Homo sapiens: one gene and its partners. The protein of the gene in region 2 interacts with the protein of the main gene of each other region in a pairwise test. Each region holds a gene or a part of one and is shown on either strand. Other genes may lie near its edges.

Region 1 (7,886 bases), on a different chromosome or scaffold from region 2:
AACCAAATACCATATGTTCTTAGTTATAAGTGAGAACAAAGCATTGGTTACACATGGAAGTAAAGATCGGAACAACAGATACTGGGGACTACTAGAGGGGGAAGGGAAGGTGGGGACAAAAGCCTGAAAAACTATCTATTGGGTATTATGTTTTCTATCTGGGTTACAAGATCATTCATACTCCTCAGCATCACACAATGTGCCAATGTAAAAACCTGCACATGCATCTCCTGAATCTAAAATAAAAGTTGAATTTTTTTTTAAATGGGCAAAGATCTGGCTAACACGGTGAAACCCTGTCTCCACTAAAAAAAAAAAAAAATACAAAAAATACAAAAAATTAGCTGGGCATGGTGGCGGGTGCCTGTAGTCCCAGCTACTTGGGAGGCTGAGGCAGGAGAATGGCATGAACCTGGGAGGTGGAGCTTGCAGTGAGCCAAGATCACGCCACTGCACTCCAGCCTGGGTGACAAAGCGAGACTCCATCTCAAAAAAAAAAAAAAAAAAAAGGGCAAAGATCTGAGTAGACATTTCCCAGAAGAACAGATACAAATGGCCAACAAATATATGAAAAAATTCTTACCGTCTCTAATCATCAGGGGGATGTAAATAAAAAAACCACCATGAAATATCATCTGATACCTCTTAGAATAGCTATTATCAAAAAGATGTATAACAAGTATTAGTGAGGATGTGGAGAAAAGATAACCCTTGTATACTTGTGGTGGAAATACAAATTACTATGTCCATTTCAGATAATAGTATGAAGGTTTCTCAAAAATTTTTTAAATAAAACTACCTGCTGATGAGGCTGTTGAGATATAAGAACACTTTTACACTGTTGGTGGGAATGTAAATTAGTTCAACTATTGTGGAAGACAGTATGGTGATTCCTCAAAGACCTACAACCAGAAATACCACTTGACCCAGCAATCCCATTACTGGGTATATACCAAAAGGAATATAAATCATTCTATTATAAAGATACATGCATACATATGTTCATTGCAGCACTATTCACAATAGCAAAGACATGGAATCAACCCAAATGTCCATCAGTGACAGACTGGATAAAGAAAATGTGGTACGTATACACCATGGAATACTATGCAGCCGTAAAAAGGAATGAGATCATGTTCTTTGCAGGAACATGAATGGAGCTGGAAGCCATTATCCTCAGCAAACTAACCCATGAACAGAAAACCAAACACTGCACGTTCTAACTTATAAGTGGGAGCAGAACAGTGAGAACACATGGATATTAGGAGGGGAACAACACACACTGGGGACTGTTGGGAGGCAGGTGGAGGAAGAGTATCAGGATAAATGGCTGATACATATATGCAATGGAATATTATTCAGTGTTACATAATAATGAAACCCTGTCATTTGTGACAACATGGATGGACTTGGAGGGCATTACGTTATATGAAATAGGCCAACCACAGAATGACAATTACTATATGATTTCACTTGTATTTGAAATCTAAAATAGAAAAACTCACAAAAGCAGAGAGTAGAATGGTGGTTGCCAGGGGCCGTGGTGCTGGGGAAATGGGTAGATGTGGTTACAGCACAAAGTTTCAGATATACCACATAAGTAAGTTCTGGAGGTCTCGTTTACAGCATAGTGCTTACAGCTAAGAATACTGTATTACACACTTAAAATTTGCTAAAAGGATAGATTTTGTATTCTTACCAATATTTGTTACCAAAAAAATAATAATAATAAAGGGGGGGGACTTAGGGAGGTGAAGGATATGTTTATAATCTTGATGGTAGTGATGTGTTCATGGTGTATACTTATCCCCAAACTCACTGAGATGTACACCTTAAATATGTACAGCTTTTTAAATGTAATCATAGCTCAACAAAGTCAGTTAAAAAAAAACAAGAGGGGTTGGTTAAAATACTTAAAAGGAGGGGTAGATGCTCCCTTGTTTTTCTCTCTTGGCTTTTTTCCTTCCTGCTGCCTGGAATTCAAAAATGATAGGTGGGGATTTGGCAGCCAAACTAGAGCCTCTTCTAAAGTATAGCAGAACAGAGAGCTGGAAGGGGCCTGCATCCCTAATGAATTTGGCAGGTATCTGTATTAGCCATGGTAGGTAGAACTATAGATTTAAGTGAGGGAGAAACCAACTTCTGCCTTGTTTAAGCCAGTTTGTTCAGACATTAATTTTATATACATATAGAGAACATATGCTCCTTTATGAGTAGGAAAAATGTTTATGCCATATGGTCCGTGATGGGTGTTCAACAATGTAGGATGAGGCTGATTATGATGACAATGGTGACAAATAGCATGAAATAATAAGCAATGAAAAAAAGATGGCCTAATAGTTCTGTATGGTTACTTTATTTAAAGATTCTGCTGCTAATATCATTCAATGTATTTGTATGCTGGTGGGAGTTTTATTAGATGTAGACTAAGAAAGTTTACATTATTTAATGAAAAATACTTGACCACCTCTCCCTCTCCCTCCCTCTCCCCCTCCCCCTCCCCTCCCCCTCTCCCTCTCCCTCTTTCCACGGTCTCCCTCTGATGCCGAGCCAAAGCTGGACTGTACTGCTCCATCTCCGCTCACTGCAACCTCCCTGCCTGATTCTCCTGCCTCAGCCTGCCGAGTGCCTGCGATTGCAGGCACGTGCAGCCACGCATGACTGGTTTTCGTATTTTTTTGGTGGAGACTGGGTTTCGCTCTGTTGGCCGGGCTGGTCTCCAACTCCTAACCACGAGTGATCTGCCAGCCTCAGCCTCCCGAGGCGCCGGGATTGCAGACAGAGTCTTGTTCACTCAGTGCTCAATGTTGCCCAGGCTGGAGTGCAGTGGCGTGATCTCGGCTCACTACAACCTCCACCTCCAAGCCGCCTGCCTTGGCCTCCCAAAGTGCCAAGATTGCAGCCTCTGCCCAGCCACCACCCCGTCTGGGAAGTGAGGAGTGTCTCTGTCTGGCCGCCCATCATCTGGGATGTGAGGAACCCCTCTGCCCGGCTGCCCAGTCTGGGAAGTGAGGAGTGCCTCTCCCCGGCCGCCATCCCGTCTAGGAAGTGAGGAGCGTCTCTGCCCAGCCGCCCATGTCTGAGATGTGGGGAGCACCTCTGCCCCGCCACCCCGTCTGGCATGTGAGGAGCACCTCTGCCCGGCAGCCGCCCCATCCGGGAAGTGAGGAGCGTCTCCGCCCGGCAGCCGGCCCGTCCGGGAGGTGGGGGGCAGCCCCCACCCATCCAGCCTCCCCGTCCGGGAGGGAGGCGGGGGGCAGCCCCGGGGGCAGCCCCCGCCCGGCCAGCCGCCCCGTCCGGGAGGGAGGTGGGGGGCCGCCTCCGCCCGGCCGCCGCCCCGTCTGGGAGGTGGGGGGCGCCTCTGCCCGGCCGCCCCTTCTGGGAAGTGAGGAGCCCCTCTGCCCGGCCGCCACCCCGTCTGGGAGGTGTACCCAACAGCTCATTGAGAATGGGCCATGATGACGATGGCGGTTTTGTCGAATAGAAAAGGGGGAAATGTGGGGAAAAGATAGAGAAATCAGATTGTTGCTGTGTCTGTGTAGAAAGAAGTAGATTTAGGAGACTCCATTTTGTTCTGTACTAAGAAAAATTCTTCTGCATTGGGATGCTGTTGATCTATGACCTTACCCCCAACCCGGTGCTCTCTGAAACATGTTTTGTGTCCACTCAGGGTTAAATGGATTAAGGGCGGTGCAAGATGTGCTTTGTTAAACAGATGCTTGAAGGCAGCATGCTCGTTAAGAGTCATCACCACTCCCTAATCTCAAGTAACCAGGGACACAAACACTGCGGAAGGCCGCAGGGTCCTCTGCCTAGGAAAACCAGAGACCTTTGTTCACTTGTTTATCTGCTGACCTTCCTTCCACTACTGTCCTATGACCCTGCCAAATCCCCCTCTGCAAGAAACACCCAAGAATGATCAATAAAAACAACAACAACAAACAACAAAAAATACTAGACCAATTTTAAAAAAAATAAAAATATCATGAGATGGAACTAAGCATCTGTATTGCAAAGTAACTCTCCCAGTTGATTTTCTGCATAGTAATGATTGAGAATCCCCTGATCTAGATCCAACAGATCTCGACCTTTATAGACGCTATCAAGGAAGCACCTAAGGAAGACAATTTTCCTGACTATATCCATACCTCCAGTTAGTAATAGATCTAGAGATCTAGAATCCAAATCCAGACCTCCTGCCTCCATGTGCGGTGGTCTTTCACTGTTGTTTTGTTCCACTTGGTGAAGAGGATTTGAGAATAAATAGCCACATGATTCAACTCCCTCCTCAGTTCTGAGTAATATAGTCTTGTCCTAGCAAGCAAGAAGCTCATACAGTAGTGGATGAGGCAAATATACATTCACTAATCTAACATACAAGGCAGTAAGTACTGTAACATAAACAAAGCACTTTGGACTTTCAGACCAGGAGAAAGTGGGGTGATTAATTCTTAGCAGGGCAAGTAAAGTCTGGGAAGTGTTCACTAACAAAATGTCTGGTCATTAATGAAACCAACTGGTTTCTCAACACAGTCTAATTTATTGTAACAATATAAATGGTTGTTTGTTCATAAACTTTCATCTTTTGCCAAAATGTTTGTAGCTTATGTCCCCATTTAACAAGGTTTTATGGCCAAAACTGTGCACCCACATCATACTAATGAACTGGCTGTCCAATAAAAAAAGGACTCTCAGTCTTCCCATAAAAGCAATTTTGCATGCATAGAACACGTCTATCTATGAATATGCCTAATGAGGTACACAAAGACTCTTATTATCCAAACAGAGACATTCCACTGGTGCTAGACAGCCACAGATGGAAGTTTTCTCTGCCTCCTGGAAATGAAGACAAACTTTTTTCTTTCTTCAGCCATGAGGATTGCTGTCCTCCTCTTCGCCATTTTCTTCTTTATGAGCCAAGTTCTACCAGGTAACAAAATAAACTTGGTAAGAGTAGAGTGCCTAACACCTTACAGGGATTCAATACTCAAAGAGAAATCACCATCACCTATAACCAGAAAAGGGGGTCTCATAGGAAATCTGGAAGACTCATTGGCTGAGAGGCCTGCAGCCATCTAATTCATTAATTCTCCATAGCAACTCAGTTAAATGAAGTCAATGGTGTTTCAAGTCTTTGAAACCCTCTTATTCCATCTCCAAATTAGGCAAGTTTACTAGCAGTTACTAGACATCAAAAATTAAAAATCAGGCATTATTCTACTAAATCTTGGTCTCCAAAGCTCCTCTAGTTTCCTTCAGCAACAGTTAGTTTTCCTAAGAACTGGCATAAGAGCTATGCCAAAGCTGTGGTAGGCTCAGACAGAAGGGATTGGTGGAAGAAGTCTCTTTGAAAATATTATTATAATCTAAGAAATCTTTAACCTATTGCTCCCCAATACTGTTGGTCACTGGGGCTTGACTTTTCCCCTTAAGGCTCCATCTCCATCCCTGGCTTTCCCTCTTCCTTCTCAGCATCTAGTCTTGTAATGTAGAATTTAAACACAGGAACCAGGGATGACCCCACACCAGGGCATAGCCTACTGCATTCAGCATGCAAACATTAATCACAGGTATAAGGCCCCTTGCACAGACATGCTTTGGAGAAGTGTGTCTAGGACTTCTTGGATTTGCCCATGGTGGTTACCAGACACCCAAAATAGATCCAAAAATTTTCTGGAACTCCTGAACATGTGTATTCAAGGATGAATAAGCAACTTATTGCCTCTATTTTTGCTGTTTTATAGAGAAAAAAATTAAGGCCCTGGAAACTGAAGTGCTTTTCTCAACAGTGGGGTAAATGTCAGAGTCAACACTTTGTTTTAATATCCTGGCTTTCCCTAATACATCCCACCCTGGAGTTCTGTTGTGCCGTTCCTTTGTGTGACTTCCTAAAGCCTGAAAAAAGGTGATACCATATCCAATTATATTAACTCGGTAGCACACAACATCGGGGACTGACTTATAAGATTATTATCCTTGTGGCATTACTGAATTCCTAGTACTTGTTAAATAGTCACCCTGGCTAAATACATGGGTTTGATTTTTTTAACCAGTTAAAAATATTTTAAAATATGTGTCTTACATATATAACCCCAGAAAATCAATGCTTTTAATCAAGGTTTAAAAATTCCAAATTTGGATAAACAAATTTTTTTTGTTGTTTTCATTGTCACTCAATCAAAATAGAAGCAACTAATTGGATAGAACAGCACAGGCAGAAGCATTACTCACAGTCAAAAATGGGATGCAACAAGACTGGAGAAGAAAACACAGGATGGTGCTAAAGAATGCAGCCTAATGAAAGGTGGCACCTCCTCTGGATGTCCTTAGGTAGACATTGAAGCAGAACTGCAAACTTTTTGTAGAAGGCTAGAGAAGAGAGGAGGACACAGAGAGAGGGCAAGAGTGGAAAATAGAATGAGGCTCAGAATACCAAGCCTTAGTGCCATCCCTATCATCTGTCTCACTCCATCACTGGGTGATCTTGAGCAAGTTTCTTTCTTTCCGTCAGCTTATTTCCTCATCTTTAAGGTAAGCGACTAGACAAGACAGCCTATGATGTTCATTGTAACTCTAGCTTTTGTTCCTAAAGCAAATAGCTGGAAAAGACATAGTGTCCACAATATGCAATACACAAGGTTTACAAGCAAAGAACAAATGAAAACAAAAGATTTTTAAAATCCCTAATGTTACTTGAATTCTTGTAAATGAACAATGGTACATCATAATTTTAAAAAGCCCTTTGTAATTTCAATTTTTTAAAATAATTTCAACCTTTATTTTAGATTCAGGGAGTGCATGTGCAGATTTGTTACATGGGTATATTGTGTGATATTGAGGTTTGGGGTATGAATAACTCTGTCACGCAGGTAGGGTGTACCTAAAGGGTAGCTTTTCAGACTTTACTCCCTCTCCCTCCCCTCCTGGTAAGTCCCAATCTCTCTTGTTCCCATTTTTATGTCCATGTGCACTTATTGCTCGGCCCCCCCTTATAACTGAGAATATGTGGTATTTGGCTTCCTGTTCCTGAGATAATTTGCTTAGAATAAAGTCCTCCAGCTGCATCCATGTTACTGAAAAAGACACAGTTTTGTTCTTTTTATGGCTGCATAGTATTCCATGACATATATGTACTACATTTGCTTTATTCAATCCACTGTTGATGAACACCTAGTTTGATTCCATACCTTTGCTACTGTGAATACCACTGTGATGAACATACAAATTTAGGTCTTTTTACAAGACTGATTTATTTTCCTTTGGATATACACCCAGTAGTGAGATTACTGGGTCAAATGGTAGTTCTGTATTAAGTTTCTTGAAAAGTGGTTTGAAAATATAATGCTCAATAGAATCAGGTATAGTAACATAGTACACATGATTCAAAGACCTGTGAACCGAGAGTAACAACAAATTTCTGCACAAACATATTGCAAGTTAGAAAACAGCTGTATTTTAATCAATTATTCCACAATCATTTACTGAATAGCTATTATAAGCCAAGACTTTAATCAGATTCTGGAATATACATACAGAGGAGAATAAGATATGATTCCTGCCCTCAAGAAATTCATTATCAAGAATTGAGGTCAGATGAGAAAACACCACCCGTAGTAGAATGCAAGAAGTACTACCACAGAGGGATGTTCAAGAGTGATTTATCACATATCACAAGACAGGTCAGTGGTTCATCCTCTACACTATACTAATCTCTTATGACTCTTCCAGCTGCAAAGGGCCAATTTTAGCACAAGGCCAGTGGGCTTGGGTACTACTATACGTAGTAGCTGACTACTTACAGATAAAAGGAAGAGATGGAAAGCTCAGGGATCAAAAAACTCAGATTTCAGCTTGTTTCTACTAAGTGACCAACATCTAGAATTATC
Region 2 (7,034 bases):
CTGGGACAGGCCTGCCCAGAGGCAGAGGCAGCCCCAATACAGGGGTTGTGGGGGAGTTAACCACCAGAGCACAGGCCCTGGAGGGTGGCGTGAGTGTTAATCCCAGAGCAAGGCCCTGCCATCAGGCCTGAGGCCCTGCAGAGGGCGCCATAATGGGATGCTCCAAAGACCCTGAAGGCAGTTGCCCCACAGATGAAAGAGCCAGGGACTGAAATCTCAGAGAGGGCACCAACCCCAGACCTCAATAGCCCCCATCCAGACCCTTCTCACCCATTTATCTTTCCTGTACCCTAGAGCTGCTGTCCTAAGCCCAGAAAAGTCAGAAGCAGCAGAGTGAGGGTGCGGTTAGGGGAGGAGGAGAAGAGGGAGGTGGAGGAAGACAGAAAGAAGCTCAACTCCCTCCCCCGACTTACTTTCACCTTCTTTCTTCTGCAGGCCTAGGGTGAGGGGTGGGTGGGTATGGGAGAAGCTTTGGCTGAGAAGTTGAAGTTTTGATTTGAATTTGGACTAGTCTCCCAAATGTCTGAACATGAGATTGTTATAATACCTGAAAGGAACCAGGAGAGCTACGGGATTTGCCTGGGATATCATCAAGGGTGATGTCATCAAGAAATCCAATATGCTATGATTGAAGATAGTGGTGGAGAAAAATAAAGCGATTTCCTGATGGCACCCTTCCACGTCTGTCCCACTGTGAACGCTGATTTCACCCAATGTGCGTTCTCCTTTTTTACAACAAGGGCAAATGACAGAGCTGAGCTGTATTACAAATCCAGCTTTTAAATGTGGACTATTCATTGTGGCATGCCTGTGGGCCACATTTTGAAATAGAATCTCCAAATGGAATCAGCTGTTAATAGAGCTTCCTCCAGGAATGTCTGAGGCTGCTTCTCCTTTTCCAGCTCTGCTTCCCATCATCACAAGGCCCTCTCACCTCCTGTCCCCTCATCCCCTACCTGTCACCTAAGTTTTCTTTGCCATATCTAACAAGACCAAATCTACCAAGACCTTATCTAATATCTAGAAAATATTTCATGATTCTCCAAGAATCTGCAGTGGCATCGAGATGTGAACGGTTTTCCGTTAACAAATTAAACATACTATTTTCCTAAAAGGGACATGAATTTAGAAGAGATTCTGCATGGTGGCTGTGTGGACAGTTCATATATCCACTGAGATTCAGTGTGGCCTTTTTATTTCTTCCTCATCACTGCAACACTGTGGTTAAGGGAGTGACTCTCCAGGTCCTGACAGGTCACTCCTAGGTATGGAGAGGAAATGGGGGAGGTTGGGCGGGGTGGGGGGGTGGTGTGGCAAGGTGGTGAGCTTGGGTGGTACATCTCAAAGAGCTGTTTATGGGTCTAGGTCCCCTCTTTTCTGACCTCCCCTATGGACTCTGAGAGGCGCTGTCTGGGAGAGGGCAGTCATACTCACTCTTCATTGACAAAGATGAGTTCCAGAGAAGGTTGGCTGTTCTTTACATCCAGACCTATGAGTAGCAAAGAAAAGCAGTATGTGAGAGGTGGAGGCTGGGGCTGACCCTGTGGGTTGGAGCATAGCTCAAGGGCTTAGGGCGGAGGTGGGCCATATGGAGTGGGTGACATTTCTCCTTCCCTTTGCTCTGTAAATAGAATGGGGCTCATGGATGCAGACTGGCCCCAGGGTTTTGCAGTGATCCTTGAGCATTTGGGGGCAAAGAGCAGTGTGTACCCTTGAGCATTTGGGGGAAAAGAGCCCAGAAGTGAAGGAGGAAGGAAGAGCCAGAACAGGGAGTTCAGGGAAGCTTCAGAGTCCAAGAGCTGGGATGGGAAAGAGGAGAGAGGGAAGAGGAAGGGGAATGTGGGGGCATGGCTGAGGGGGTCCTGGGGTGGGCACAAAGTTGGGCAGTCTCCCTAGAGGAGCCAGGCAGGAGGACCCCAGGGGAGGTTGGAGGAGCAAAGGAGAGATGAACTCCAGCAAACTGTACTGATGGGTTCGGCCTCTTCGGTGTTGGAGTTGCCCGCCACGAGCTGCTCGTCCTCAGCACTGACCAGCTCCTGCAGCACGGCCTCCACGATGGGCATCACCATGGCGGTGGTGGAGGTGTTGGACAGCCACATGGACAGCAACGTGGTACAGCACATGAAGCAGAGCAGCAGCCTGGAAGGCAGGGAGGGTTGGGGCAGAGCGTCCACGGAACACACATCCCTGCGGCTCCACAGTGGGCCTCCTACCAACCTGCTGGGGCTGGTCTAGACAGCTGTGGCTGGAAAGGCAGGCATTTGTCCTGCAGGGTGCCATTCAGCTCTGTACTCCCAATGCTTGGCACAGCGTAAGTATTAAAGCAATACTTCTTGAATGAATGAATCACACTTCATGGACTAGCGGCCTTAGCCAGAAAAAAGTCCTTAGTGAAGCAAAGAATAGCTCTGGTAGTAGGGCCACAGGGTGTAGACTTACCATTGTTTTTCTGTCTCCACGGACATTGGCTGGAGCTTGGCGGTGATGTGTGTTTGTGTGTGGAAGGCAATACTTTGTTTGCCCTCGCAGCCAGCAATTCTGTGAGCGCCACGGCACTCCTTGCTTTGCCGCCAAGTCACCATAGATATCAGTGACCCAATAGAGATGAATGTTTGGAGCTCACAGTTCCACCCACTACCTGTCAACATGCTGAAGGCATAGCCCCCAAAGTCACAGAAGTGTCCCGTGTCACTGTGTGCACTTTTCCAGCTGACATCTTAAAGCGTCAACACTTGGAGAAAAACACTAACAAGGTTAACCCTCTAATTATTTCTCTTTGGCTTTGAGAACGTTGTGCAATGTGTGCCTGTACAGACATGTCCTAGTTTCCATAAGATAAGCCAACATAAAGACTACTGTGTTTATTATTTTAGGTGGAATCACTGACTTTGCACAACTTGGGGACAGTACGTTTATCATGTGGACTCCATTGGCTGACAGCGACTTGACTTTGCCAATTCTGTACCTACACGGGTAACTGCCTCTGGGGGTGGCAACTTGCTGACTGATGTAAATAGGGAGGAGTGGAAATGTGAGAGGATAAAAATTCTTGCAGATAGTACACAGAGATTTTAAAGAGCCACAGAGTCTCCATATGATGTGACGAAATGCCACTGTGTGCCTGGGAGGTTGAGTGTAGGGGCAAGATTATTACTGAGTTAGGGGGTGGATTAAGCTGTAGTTATCAGACCTGTTTGACAATCTGGGAGACAGGAACATGCTTTTAAGCATAACCTATAGTCATCTAAATGACTCATACTGAGAACCAATACTATATTATTTATTTATACTCGTGTTGACTCCCATAGGAGTCAGGGCAGCTTACATAAAATACAGCAAGAAAGTTGTAAACTAGAAGGAGGTGAGCAGGATATTCCAAAAGGGAAGGTACAGGCAGGGGAATCCAAATGGAACATTGCTGAAGCTAACACAAAACTCAACCTTGACACCGTAACACATTCCCCGAGGGTGGGACTCCCTCCCGCATCACAGTCAAATGCAGTGTCTCTAACTGGGTCTGTGGTCTGAACTGATGACAAAAACTCAGGGTGGATGGGAGGAAACATTCCCGTCTCCTTCAGTGACAAAGGAGAAGACAGCCACTTCCGGTCCAGCCTGTTCCCTGATACACAGGAAACAGGTTGGGAAACAATTTCTCTTGGTCCATCCTGTTTTACCTGATGGGCCCCTATATGTTGTAAGCTGCTGCCCTTGCAGCCTAGGTCAATGGGTAAATTCTTTGGATAATGATAGCAAGGTCACAGGTTTAAATCTCTACTCCATGATCACAGGCCCTCTCCCTGGACGGGTCCTATGGCTCTGGTGTCAGCCCGACCCTTTGGTAAAAAAACAGCTGAAGTGGACATCCCGCAGTGACCTGAGACCACTGTCCTGGTGGCACACTGGGAGCTAGAAGGATGCCCTATGTCCTGGCATCCCAAATAAGACTTACATGCCCGGCTTGGCTCCGGCCATCAAGACCATGCGCAGAGCAATGCGCTTATGCAGGTTCCACTTCTCCACGGCAGCCGCCACGCAGATGACCCCCACCAGCAGCAGCGTGGTGTTCTTGAAGTACTCCGCCGCCACCTGTAGGGAGGCCAGGCATGTCAGTCACCCTCCCGGACCAAAGACCCAGGGCCCAGCACCAGCTGGGAGAATGGGCCATACCCAATAAAACCTGTTCTCAATCAAAGAGGCTGGCGAAGGGGAGGCAGGGGGGTGAGGATTATTGAAATAGCCGCCCATCCTAGAGTCACATCTACTGAGCGTTCATTGTGGGCAGGCACTGTGCTAAGTACTTGACAGATTATTTCATTCAATCTGGCCCATAACTCTATAGGATAGATGTTCTTCTCCACTTTGGAAAACATAAAACCACTGTATTTAAATATGATGTGAATATGATTTTAAAGAATAAACACATATAATTTTATATTGATCTTTTAAAATAACCCTAGGTTTCTCCCCAAACCTAATTTTTAATGTTTTTAGAAAATATTAGAAAATTATTTTCATTTCATTTCTATTAGAAAATTAATACATACTCAGTATGGAAAACTTCAAAATATAAAAAAAGTTAAAGACAAAATTACCCTTAATCATGCTACTGTAAATACTTATAGTTTCTTCCATTTTTCCTATACCTATATAGATAAATGCATTTATACAGTATGTATACTTTTATATCTTGCCTTTTTTTCATTTAACATCATATCCTCATTATTGTTTTTCTTTGAGACAGAGTCTTGCTCAATTTTTTTTTTTTTTTTTTTTTTTTTTTTGTGAGATGGAGTCTCGCTCTGTCGCCCAGGCTGGAGTGCAGTGGTGCGATCTCGGCTCACTGCAAACTCCGCTTCCTGGGTTCACGCCATTCTCCTGCCTCAGCCTCCCGAGTAGCTGGGACCACAGGTGCCTGCCACCATGCCTGGCTAATTTTTTTTGTATTTTTAGTAGAGATGGGGTTTCACTGTGTTAGCCAGGATGGTCTCAATCTCCTGACCTCGTGATCCTCCTACCTCGGCCTCCCAAATTGCGGGGATCAGAAGCATGAGCCAGCGCACCCGGCCTTAATTTTAAAAATTTAAATAATTCCCAATAATTCTCAAGTTCCAATGAATTCCAAAAATGAAAATAGTACAAGGAATACCTATACACTCTTTTTTTTTTTCCCTGAACCATTTGAGGGTAAGTTACACACATTTTGGCTGGTCCTTTACCCCTAAATACTTCAGTGTATATTTTCCTTTCTTTCTTTTTTTTTTAAAAAAAAATTTGAGACAGGGTCTCACTCTGTCACCCAGGCTGGAGTGCAGTGGCATGATCACAGCTCACTGCAGCCTCAACCTCCCAGGCTCAGGGTATATTTTCTACGAGTAGGGATTTTCTCTTCCTTAGTGGCCACAGTACCAGTTATAAACTCCTTTCTACTTTTTAATTTAATGATGGGGAAGTTGAGACATAGGGCAGTTAAAAAGATGTTTCGCATGTTTGAGGTTCATGGACCAAATCTTTGTTGATTCTCTCACTTGGAACATTCTCTCTTTCCATCTCTGCCTGTACATTCCAATCAGACTTTGAAGCCCAGTTCAGGCCTGGCATCCTCTAGAAAAAACCTTTCTTGTGGCCCTAGCCTCTGATTCCAGAATATTCCTCCTGGGCACCATTAATTCCGCACACCACAGAGCACTTGGAGCAATGCTTGAATGATTGCTTCCTGATTGTACTGTTGTTTGTTTATTTTTGTATGTGTACTTCTCTTGTCTCTCAACTAAATTTTTCGGCTGTGAATGGTTCCCTTCTATATATCTTAACACCTAGTAGAATAATATGCAAAAGTAGATGCTCAATAAATATTTGTCACATACATGAGAATTGCTTCCAACTGGAGGAACCATACAGAAATTGAGAGGAAAAGCTATAGAAAAGTCTAACTTCTAATTGAAAAACCCTCTTAAAGTGAGAAAACAAGAACATTTTTAACTGCAGCAAAAATAAAAATTCAACAGGAAAGGAAATACATAGTAAAATACATAGCATTTGAAATAATATGTACATGATCATACTAATTTTGATTATTGAATTAACAAAAATTGTGATTGAGCATATTGGGAGGATGGTAGAAGGCGAAGTGGGGGATGTAAAAGAAAAAATCTTCCCGGGAGGCAGAGCTTGCAGTAAGCCGAGATCGCGCCACTGCACTCCAGCCTGGGCGACAGAGCGAGACTACGTCTCAAAAAAGAAAACAAAAAACAAAAAGAAAAAATCTTCATCTGCTATAACAAGAAGTCAACTGATAGCCGCTTAAAGTGAGAACTCAAGGACTAATATAAGAATATCATATGGGAATGGAGCTTAATGACAGAAGAAGCTGTTAACAAAGTTACAAGTTATTGACTCTGAGGGTGGGGTGGGACTTGGTAGGGGGGGAAGTGGGAGGGATGAGGAAAGAGACTGCTGACTTTTCATTATAAGCGTTCAGTATTAAAGTATTTGATTTTTAAACTTTGTGCACGAAACACTTTGATAACATCAAAACCAAAATAAAGGCAGGCTGCTCCATCTCTCCTTTCTCTCTTTTGCCCTATGGACATTTCATTGCATCTGGTTGATGAGGGTTGTGTAGGAGAAGGGACATCTGCCCTCACTGTGACCATTTCCTGGGGGGAAAAGCCCCTGCTTCTGGTTAACCCAGTGTTTGTCTCTAAGCCCATTCCTCAGCGGACTACTGTCACGAATGCCCCCTGGGGGCAGGGAAGGCCCCCTGCTCTGGACAGCTTGTGACTCCGTGGCAGAGTCCACTCTGAGAGGGCGGTGATCATGGTGGTGGGGGCGGGGGTGGGGTTGGGGGAGCGGCCCCCTAGCGGGAGCAGGAGGCACTGCAGGATTGTCCTAGGGAAGTGGTTGAACTTGGAGGTTCAAGGGCCTTTCTCACTGCCTGGTTACTTTCCCAGGCTTTGTGGAGGCGGCTTTGTGGCACAACTGGAGCTTTATTTTCTTGTCTACCGAGGAGAGAAACCCACAGAAGATGCGGG
Region 3 (4,080 bases), on a different chromosome or scaffold from region 2:
TCTATTTTAGTTTTAGTTTGACTTCCACTGTCATCAGTTTCCTTGGAAGTTCCCAGTGATGACTAAATTTTCAGAACTGAGCTAATATTTTCCAGCTTGAAGGGAAAAACTAGTAAAACATATTTTAAGGTGTTACATGATCAACTCTGAAAATTACAACTCCATTCATAATGGCAGTCCTATTCAGTACTGTTACAGCACTTCGCAGTTTTGCCAACACTTTCATATGCTTTTTCTAATATAATCCCCTCAATGAAGAAATTGTGACATAGATTAAATTCCTGATGTCATGCAGCAGTTAAGTGATAGGACCAACTTAACACAGGCTTTCTCATTTACAGTCTGTGCCTTTTCTCCTGTACCTCATTATTTAACCTTGTTGATTCACACTAAGTGTCCAAACTGGTAAACCTCCATTAGGTTTATAGTAAGTATATTTAAAGTCATGCAGGCATGAACCTTTATGAAGTCTGGTTTGGATTGTGGGTTATTTTTTTGATCCTTTTAAAAAGATTAACTGTTCTTTCTTCCTTTTACCTTACAGGACCAAGCCATATGTCCTTCTATGTTCGAGCCCACAAAGGGTCAACACTTTCTCAGTGGTCTCTTGGCAATGGCACCCCAGTCACAAGTAAAGGAGGAGACTACTTTGTCTTTTACTCCCATGGACTCCAGGCCTCTGCATGGCAGTTCTGGATAGAAGTGCAGGTGCCAATTTCCCAGCATTGTTTGTTTCATTGATTAGGTTCCCAGGTGGTATTTAGCAAGAACCTTGGGTTCAGTATTCTGGCTTCTGAGAACTGGAGAACTAATTGATTTTCTCTGGCAGGTTTCAGAAGAACATCCTGAAGGAATGGTCACCGTGGCCATTGCTGCCCACTATCTGTCTGGGGAAGACAAGAGATCCCCTCAACTGGATGCTCTGAAGGAAAAGTTCCCAGATTGGACATTTCCCTCTGCCTGGGTGTGCACCTACGATCTCTTTGTATTTTAATCTTGTGGATGAGCTCTAAGTACATGCCCAGTGGATACTCCATGTGACATGGTTTCTCCCTATGTTACGTGGATGTTTGTAACGTAAGTCAATGAATTTTAATGATCATATGTTCAAAGAGCTTTCTGGGTTAACGCTTTTCAGGGCCAAGCACTATAAGGGTTTAGCTGTGGCGCAGTGATGCATGGCCTGTTGACACTTGAAAATGCCAGTCTTTTGGCACTTCAGCACATGTGGGTACTGCCACTACACACACGTCATTTTATATGACCTTAAGGACAAAGCCAACAATCCACTTCAATAGCTGCCCCTTTAGGATCAAGAAAGATGTACACTGTCAGAGCATTGTTAATGAGACAAAAGTTGTTTCCAATTTAAGCCCCAAAACCATTTGTTGTATTAGTGGATGGTGGGTAAAATATCATTCACTGAGGTAATGATTCCCCTTGAGAATATAACTCTGTGTAGGTCACTGGAAAGTGATTGCCATAGGGCTGGGAGAGAAGCATTGCACTCTTGAGGCTGTAGCCTGTGTCAAGCTGTTTCTTCAGGCAGCCTCTCAAATGTGCTTTGTCTCTCTGTGCTGAGGCCTGGACCCTGTGCTGAGCTGGTGACTCACTGTCCTGACAAGTGGACACACAGATGCACTGCTGTGCTGCTTTCCTGAGGTGGTTTTCTATGCCTGTTTTCCTCTGAAACATGTCTGTTACCCCTCTCCATCTTACCAAGTTGAAAAGGGGAATATTTGGCCACATACCCCTCTGGTTTTCGTAGGTTCTTTTGGTTCAGAATATTGTTTGTGCCAGTACATGACCTTAACTTCCTTCCTCAGAGCACTGAGCTGCCATCTGGGCTATTCTGGGGTAGAAGGAAGGCTGGGAGTGGTGGGAATTTTATAAATATTTATTCTCTTTTCTTTGTTTCATAGGAGTCTTGTGTTATACAAGGTTAGTCCTTCATGGTATAATCTTACTGATGCACTGGGCCTATCTTTTTGTTTTCCAGCCAGTTGAATAGATTAGTTTTTCTCAGTAACTTACTATCCAGCAGACTGGCTTTCCTGAGACTTGAGGTTGTGGCTTATACTGGAATGAGACCACTGTACGTGTAGGTGGTTCAGATCCTGCGTAATGGCAGCATGAGGACTTAAAAGGTGGTTTTCATTTTGAAGATGGCTATGTAGCTTGTAAGGTGTATCACAGCAGTACCTCTCATGGCTTTTTGGTTCCAGCAGTGAGGGCATTGGTGAGATCAATGGTAAACTGTGCAAGCTTTCTTTTTATCATTAGGAAATGTGAAACGTTGGACAAATTTTGAGTTTTAACAAGGACAAAAAGTTGAAAGAAAAGGCACAGTTAACAAAAAAGGGTGGCTAGATTTATCTTGGGTGATGGAGGAAATGAGAGAGGAATGCTCTTGAAAGGTGGTCTGTGGATCTGTCTGAATAGAAAGAGCACAGTAAGTATGCATTGCCGGAGAAAACGTCCTTGAAGCTGCTTGTCTCATGTGTATGATGTGCTTTTTAAATCATGCCCCTCGTTGCCTGCCTAATCTGTGACTCCCTAAAAACTAACTGGGCCCATGTAGATGGGGCTGCAACCAGAGCTGAATAACATGTTAGGCTCACACATGCATCAGCACTGCACACTGGAATCATTGCTCTTCCTGGACTTTGTAGAAATCAGTCTCAAGTGCTTCAAGAGTCTGGCTCCTGCTACTTTTATCTGTCAGGTAGCACATAAGGTTTGCAGGGTTTATATTTTGTATAGAATCACAGTTGTGGAGAAAAAGTAATAATTTCTCAATGAATTTTAAAAATGGGCCTATTTTCTATCCCCGTGGTTCATCTGATATAATTAGTGTTCCCTGTGAATTCCCCCCCTCTATGGGAAGGATGCCTTTACTCTTTATCAGTAATAAATTATGACTGTTTTCATATTGCCTTAGGGTTATTTCCCTGTGTAAACCATTGTCTTTTGTTTTGGTTTTCTTTAGCATTATGAAGCTTTGGTATTGTACAAGGTCAGTAGTAAGATGCTCACTAGTCTCAGGGCTTGTGTAATATTCTGGGAGGTCATTTAAATGCCAGAAATGGTCAAGCAATTATACACAGTATTTATGACTCTGTTAAGCATACCGTTTGTCTGTCACATTAGTAGATTCTGAGATTAAAAAAAATTTTTAAAGAGTGATCATTTAAATAATTTCTAAAAGGGTCTTTTCAAGCTCTAACAAAGTCACTAACAAATGCATTATTTTCTACAGAATTAGATGTTAGTAGTACAGTACTGCATATTCAGGGAAAAAGTGTGAGGAATTGATTTCAAAATAGTTCGTTCTTGTGTTTGACCTAAGAATGATTGTCGCATGAAGTGTTTGTTTTTACAGTTTAGCATATATAAACAAACATGATAGGATTCCTTAAGATGTTACCACCCAGGGGGCCACAAGCCAGCCTGCTGTCTCAGGAAGCTGTAGAAGGAGTGTTTGTCAATTTCTTGTCACTGGTTTGCTGACTTACTGAGGATTAATTGTTGCCTTACAATGTTACTGAAATAAACTGTTTAATATACTGGTTGGTATCTTTTTAACTGAAAAACAGATCTGTGTTCTTCTGTATCCCCATATTTTCAAGGGTTATTCCATGTCCACAGAGCCTTTTAATTGCTGTTAAAAGACCTAGATGGCTCATGTGAGCAAAGAACTCAACATGGAAATGTTTACTTCAGTTAGAATCCTTTATCTTAGAATGAAATGGTACTTCTGAATTTCACAGAAATTATTAGGTAAATGTTGAGCTTCACCTATGTAGGAGTTTTAAATCATCCCCATTAGCAAAAAAATAGCAAAGGGTAAAGGGCGTTCTTTTATTTGGGAGTAAGGGTAGGAGGGAGGGAAGAAGTTGCCTTTCAGCCAGAGTGACTCATTGCTTATTCTAATCTCCACAGAAGGAAAGGGCACCACCACTCACCAAAATAGAGCATGAACTTTGAGTTCAGAGATCTCTGTGCAAGTTATTTAAACTTTGAGTGAATTCTCTCAGAACAGTTCAATGCAAGGTGAAGCAGCTGAACAACTTCTAACCT

The links.
Region 1: the proteins of SLC13A4 (region 2) and DEFB108B interact in binary tests that used the Homo sapiens proteins (3 or more experiments, as listed by UniProt).
Region 3: the proteins of SLC13A4 (region 2) and ERMP1 interact in binary tests that used the Homo sapiens proteins (3 or more experiments, as listed by UniProt).

What each region holds. Positions count from the first base shown.
Region 1 is NC_000011.10:71,828,328-71,836,213, forward strand, and holds the start of DEFB108B (beta-defensin 108B precursor), read left to right. Parts: upstream 1-4,872; coding exon 4,873-4,930; intron 4,931-7,886. UniProt on the Homo sapiens protein: Has antibacterial activity.
Region 2 is NC_000007.14:135,704,162-135,711,195, forward strand, and holds part of SLC13A4 (solute carrier family 13 member 4), read right to left. Parts: intron 4,436-7,034; exon of another isoform or gene 4,090-4,435; coding exon 3,953-4,089; exon of another isoform or gene 2,649-3,952; coding exon of another isoform or gene 2,440-2,648; intron 2,312-2,439; exon of another isoform or gene 2,140-2,311; coding exon 1,967-2,139; exon of another isoform or gene 1,490-1,966; coding exon 1,435-1,489; exon of another isoform or gene 1-1,434. UniProt on the Homo sapiens protein: Sodium:sulfate symporter that mediates sulfate reabsorption in the high endothelial venules (HEV).
Region 3 is NC_000009.12:5,784,058-5,788,137, reverse strand, and holds the end of ERMP1 (endoplasmic reticulum metallopeptidase 1), read left to right. Parts: intron 1-544; coding exon 545-708; intron 709-829; coding exon 830-994; 3' UTR 995-3,566; downstream 3,567-4,080. UniProt on the Homo sapiens protein: Within the ovary, required for the organization of somatic cells and oocytes into discrete follicular structures.